Linked DNA regions of Homo sapiens. The protein of the gene in region 1 purifies or fractionates together with the protein of each later gene. This does not show direct contact. Each region holds a gene or a part of one and is shown on either strand. Other genes may lie near its edges.

The links. The genes of interacting proteins can lie anywhere in the genome.
Region 2: the proteins of CYB5D2 (region 1) and FZD6 purify together in Homo sapiens (co-immunoprecipitation; one large-scale study listed by IntAct). This does not show direct contact.

Annotation. Positions count from the first base shown.
Region 1 is NC_000017.11:4,155,542-4,158,391, reverse strand, and holds the end of CYB5D2 (neuferricin isoform 1 precursor), read right to left. Parts: intron 2,446-2,850; exon of another isoform or gene 2,199-2,445; intron 1,527-2,198; coding exon 1,310-1,526; 3' UTR 695-1,309; downstream 1-694. UniProt on the Homo sapiens protein: Heme-binding protein which promotes neuronal but not astrocyte differentiation.
Region 2 is NC_000008.11:103,322,898-103,326,397, reverse strand, and holds part of FZD6 (frizzled-6 isoform a precursor), read right to left. Parts: intron 1,918-3,500; coding exon 900-1,917; intron 1-899. UniProt on the Homo sapiens protein: Receptor for Wnt proteins.

The sequences.
Region 1 (2,850 bases):
TAGAGCAAATGGAGCTGAAAAGCAAAGCTAGTGAGTATAAGCCAAAACTGGAGTTGAGGGAATGTTTATGATGTGAGAGAAGTGAGCTGTTTGATGCATACCTGGGGGAAGATCCAGGAGACGGGGAGAGGTTAAAGGTACAAGAGGGGCAGGTGAGGAGGATGGCGGGGGCAGGCAAAAGGAGCCATGAGCCAGAGCCCAAGTGTAAGGAACAGCTGTGGCCATAGGGGCAATAAGCCCGGGTCTGCCAGTGAGGGGACAGGGGCAGTGAGCACGGGTCTGCCAGTGAGGGGACAGGGGCAGTGAGCACGGGTCTGCCAGTGAAGGGGACAGGGGCAGTGAGTACGGGTCTGCCAGTGAAGGGGAGGCAGCCTCCATTTTCTAGTCTGTGAATCTGGAAAGCGATTTAGTGAAATGAATGATGGAGAAAAAGGAGACAGTGACAGAGAGGGAGGAAGCTGGTGGATGTTGAGGGTGAGACTGAGCGGCAAAGGGAGCTGGGTGGAAGCTCTGATGAGGCGATGCACAGAGGCCGTGGCGCTGTCTGTGGTAGTGCTGGTCCCACTTCTCTGTCTGAAGTAGGAACACTCCTTGCCCCCATCTACCTTCACAAGTAGTCAAGAGGTAACAGGTATGACATTGCCAGATGACGCTGGACATACAAACCACTGGACAAGCAGCAAGCCCAGCCACCTTAAGTTTGAAGCCTTGCCCAAGCTTTAATGTCATGCTAACCAGTTACCTTGTTAGAGCTGGGAAGCCACCTTTTGCTCAAAATGCAGACTTCTGCCTTTGAAAACACACCACACCTGATTTTAAGTGCTTAAAGGACAGAAAATGTCGTTGCTTTAAATTGTTGCTTTGTTCAGAGACATCTGGATTTGCTGTATCCATACAAGCAAAAGCTTTTCCAATTCCAGAATCAACCCACACTAATTTGTTATTGCCTCGTACTGTATTGGCCCAGCTGTAATCAACTCAGCAGGCTTTTGGTTGTAAATTCAAGTGGAAATTGAGTTGGTCTTATTTGTGCCCGTTGATATCTGAGGGCTGTGAGGAAGATGGCCAGTAGGTCAAAGGGAATAGTGTTGAAAAGCTGACCAGTACTGGGCAGGTGGCCGGCTGTCCCTCAGGCACCACAACGCCGAGCCACGGTAAGGGGCATGAGCCACATTTGCAGAATATAGCCAGAGTCCTTCCAGACCCTCCTGATTCGCGCCAGGAGGCATCCCAGGGCACACAAGTGTCAAGGGCCTACTCAGGTGCTTGGCAGAGCTCTCTGTGTGTTATTAACAGAAGAGGCTACGGCTTAGAGTGGAAAGGAGCATGTGATGGCTAGCGGTGGGCAGCCTGTGTACTCTGCCAAGTTTGGGTGGTCCAGGTCCCCACGATTTCTGTGTGGAGGGTTGTCCGGCATCTGGCCACTAGGGGGGCCGGTGGTTCTCACACACACGCAGCGGGGCTCCTTAGCACCTGGCTTATACAGCTTCCTGGGGACGCCAATCCAGTCTCTGCTCACACCTCCACTAAGGATAGACGGAAAGAGGACTTCTTAAATGTGAGAACTCATGAGTCTCTGGGAAGGGGAGAGCAGGAAGCAGAGAGCCAGGCCTTCTGAAAAGTAGAAGCCTACCAGAGTGTTTCCCAAGGCAGCAGGCTACAGCGCTCAGCCCCTGAGCCTTCATGCTCTCTCCTAACATCCTCCAGCTTCCCCTGCAGGGCCACCACCACCTTCCCCAGGCCAAGGGCACAGTCCATGGTTCCTTTCACTGTGCTCCCCAGCCCCTGCCCTGCCCCTTCTTAGGAGGCAGCACCACGTTCCTGCACTGGTGGCAACAGCTGTGAAAGGGCTTCCCCTGCTGGCCTGTGAGCTTCTCAGAAGCAGTGTCTGGGTGCGACTGTCCTCTTCCTTCCCCACTACAACCCAGCGCAGGTCAGGGTCTTCACCTTCTTCTCTGGGGCACTTGGCTGGGGGTGGGCAATTGGGCCCTGGCCCTTGGCCACCTGGGTCGGCCTTCTCTGGGAAGCCCTTGGCATAGAGTGTAGCTGCAAGCTGTCCTGTGCCCCACAGGTCCAGTCCTTGATGGCACTAGGCTTCAGACACGGAGGATTCAGCTGTGGCCCAACAACCTGAGCACCCTCCTATCTTGGGCAGGGGCCTTGCCCACCTCAGGGCACTGGGCTCAGTCTCTGATGGACTCAGAGGCCTTGCAAGAAAGAAACTGAGGTTCTTGGAACTGACGCCTCAGACAGCTTCCGGTGCCTGCTGTCAGAGAAACTGCCCCCAGCGAGAAAACATCCTACTTCTAGCTTACCAAGAACAAGGCTGTCACCCAAACGCCTCCCTCTTCTACCCAGCCTCCATCCCATCATTGGGGATCTGTACTCCACACCTTGTCCCTGCCTTCGGCACTTGTTCCTCTCAGTCTAATGGGACACACACAGGTGAACAGAAGACAACAAACTGAGCTGAGGCACAGGGATAGGGCCCCGCAGTTCACTAGGGTGGCCCTGGAAGGGTTTTGTGGGGAAGGCAGAGCCTGAACTACTCAGTCATGAAAGCAAGAAGAGGTTCAGGAGACACAGGGGAAGGCTGTGGGGAGGGAAAAGGAGGCAGGGCCCAAGGAAGCAAAGTCAAGCATCTGAACGCACGCAGGCCTCCTGGAGTCTCCTCCTCCTGGAGTCTCAGAGACCAGTGCTCTCTGAGGCTACCTGCATTCAGGCCTGTGTCACAGGAAGGCCCACGCCTATCTTAGCTTCTCTCCATAAAGTGAGCAGGCCAGGTTCTCACAGTCCCCTCTTTCTTGAGATGACACTGGAGAAGCTGTCTCTTCAAAGCTAGCGGCCAGG
Region 2 (3,500 bases), on another chromosome or scaffold:
TCTTATTAAGTATATAGTAAAAACAAACTATGGATAATAGATTATGGACAACGTATAAGGCAAGTAAAACTAGTATCCCCACATACCAACATAAAAAATAGATTCCACAATGTTATAAAGCAGTAACTTTCTGAAATATAAGCTATTATATGAAATAGTTTGACATTCCCATTGCTTAATTTGATACACTGTGATGGCAGTGCTCATGTTCAATGCAGTTAATACCGCACAGAGTCAGGAATAATGTCTAAAATCTACTAAAACAAAACCAAATTTCTATTTACAAAACTTCAACTAAAATGCTTTAAGAAATTTTATATTTTCAGAAATTTACTTTTATTAATTTTAAAAACACCACCCTTATACTAATCATAAGAATCAGAAATAGATAAAGCATATTTTGTTACAACTGTGTTTTTTTCAATTGAGAAATGACAGATGAGTCAGGCAAAAAGCAAATTCTGTTTTTGTAAGTATATACTATGTAAAAAGCTATAAGATAATATGATCAAATTAAATATATCCAAATAAGATTTTTTACTACTAACTAAAAAATTAAAAATAATTGCCAATGCGACAAAAGTGACTTCTGTTTTTCTCCCAATGTCAAGGTCTGTTCTTCTGACTCTGCTCTTTATTGCTATTAATCTGCCTTTGCAGCTCAATTTAATTTTTCAGAGAATAAAGGAAGTGCTTTACTATACAACTGAAGCTAAAGCTTGAGGAAGGAAGTCATGAAACATTCATCCCAGTTTCAGTTGATGTATAGGAAATCCTTACCTATGGCTCTTGTATTTTCTCACCTGAAATCAACTTTTACATCCATGACAAGTATATTTCCATGAAACATTTTCTACATTAAATGTAAATAGAGACATAATCCAAGTGATAGCTTTTACCTGATAAGGACATGGGATATGGTACTGACGACAATGATCAGAGACCCAAGTTATCTCCCAGGTAATCCTGTTCACTTGCTCATAGACGTAACATCCGAGAAGTGTCACTAATGGCACAAGATACAAGCCGCTGAAGACTCCAATTCGAATCATAAATTTCTTTAGTTTTTCTTGGTTCCGGCCATCATGTTGTATGACTTGTCGAACATGATTTAAGGAAATAATGCCAGCTAAAAGAAGAGAGAGCCCAACAAACACACAAAGGCACAGTGGCAAGAGTACAAAGTAGCGAGAAGCATCCAGGTCATAAAGGCCAACAAAGCAAACTCCACTAATGTTGTCTCCTTCAACTTTGTTCATAGCAAGAAGCATAACAGTCAGGAAACCTGGTGTTCCCCATGCAACAGCATGAAACCACACTGCTTTTTGCTCGATGGCTTCACAACTCCATTTTCTTCCTGCAGCTAAGAACCAAGTAATGGTAAGAATCACCCACCACACAGTGCCAGCCATTGTGAAAAAATACAAAAGCATGAACAAAACGGTGCAAGCCTTATTTTGAGAGCCTAGGACAACAGTGTCACCAAGTTCTAGCTTCTCATCTGCCTTATTGCAGGCTGTGCTATCGCCTAGCAAAAATCCAATGAAGTACATAAGAGATACAATGCTGTAACAGACAGAGTAATATATAATTGGTCTCTCTGGGTATCTGAATCTTCTAACATCAATTAAAAAAGTAAGGAATGTGAACAGAGTTGCACAAAGACAAAATATTGAAACTGTTCCAATAAAACTTTTTGCAAACTCTAGCTCATCACTTTTAAAATACATGTTGGGGCATGGAGGCGCACACTGGTCAATTCCCAGAAACTTATATCCTTGTCCCCCAGAAGTCTTAAGATGCCTTGGACACCAAAATCCAATGTCTCTTTGGACTTGTTCTGTTTTCTTCTGAGGACCAAGAAATTCTGTGTGTGGATCAAAAGTTACAGGAACAGTCTCATCACAGTATTGTAATCTGTAAAGATTATAAAAATTAAATATATGAAATCAACATTTTTATTGATTCAATATATTAAGCAATGCTTTCCAACTATAAAATATTACCTTATGTATTCATGATTGATGGGAAGAGATACAAATCTAAATGGATTACAGATAAGAGTTGAGTAGAAATTTTTGAAGTTGACTAAAAACTTGTGGCTGTTAATGGGGCCTCAACACAATAATTTATATTAAATACAAAGCAGGTGAACATGAAAATGCACTTACTTGGAAAAAATTAGCCAATTCATAATTTTAAAATAATTTCTGTTTTTAAGACTAAATATTTAAAAGAATTTATCTTAATTGGTAGGCTCCAGATAAGTACTGGCTTGTCTCTTTATAGCATATGAAATATGTCTTTATATCATATGAAATATATCTTGTCTATTCACTTTTATTTTCTAATGTCCATAAGAAAAGTAAAGCAACCATATAACTAAAGTGATGATAATTAAAATGAATGAAATGAGATCCTTCCCTGGATTGACAGGATAGAGTTCAAGTTTTTAAAGACAGGCAAGTATACCAGCAAGAGGCAGGCTGAGGACCAGCTTAATGAACATCACCATTTTGTTCAGGTTGGGCTCTTTGCCTCCCTTGTTTATGGACAGTCCTGAGTGATAGATGGAGATATTTCCATCTCTTTATCACTAAGTTGAGTTTGTACATACCAGTATTATTTTGGGGGATCTATAATGGTTTAAAAAGTATTGGAGGTTTTGGCCAGGTACGGTGGCTCATGCCTATAATTCCAGCACTTTGGGAGGCTGAGGCAGGTGGATAACTTGAGGTCAGGTGTTCAAGACCAGACTGGCCAACATGGCGAAACCCCATCTCTACTAAAAATACAAAAATTAGCTGGGCGTGGTGACAGGTGCCTGTAATCCCAGCTACTTGGGAAGCTGAGGCAGGAGAATCACTTGAACCTGGGAGGCGGAGGTTGCAGTGAGACAAGACCGAGCCACTGCACTCCAGCCTGGGAGACAGAGAGACTCTGTCTCAAGGAAAAAAAAAAAAAGTACTGGAGGTTTTAAATGAGAAAGCATTTTAAATATACCTTAGATAAGAACAGACTAAAACATATGCCCATAAAATGAAATACAAAAAAAACTACCAGCTTTATTAAAACATAATATTATGTCAATTTTGCTTTATATCTTTTAAAATAAAGCAATATAACATTATAGATACAGTGGGGACCCTTTCTGGTCTTAGTTCCTTCTCTCTCTCCTCAGAAGTATTCATTACCACAAATTCGGTGTTTACTCTCAAGCATTTTAAAATATTTTTATTACATTATTTACTAACTATAACCTTATAAAGTATTGTTTTTCAGGTTTTGAACTTTATATAAATGACACCATGCTGTATATAGCATGCTATAACTTACATTTTAAAATTTAACACTATATTTTCTAGATTTATCCATGTCGACAGATGTGGGTCAACTACATTCATTTTATCAACTGTATGGTAGTATTCCAGTGTGTAAGTACATCACAATTTACTAATCATTCTTCTATGATGGACTTTTAGATTTTTTCCCATTAAAAG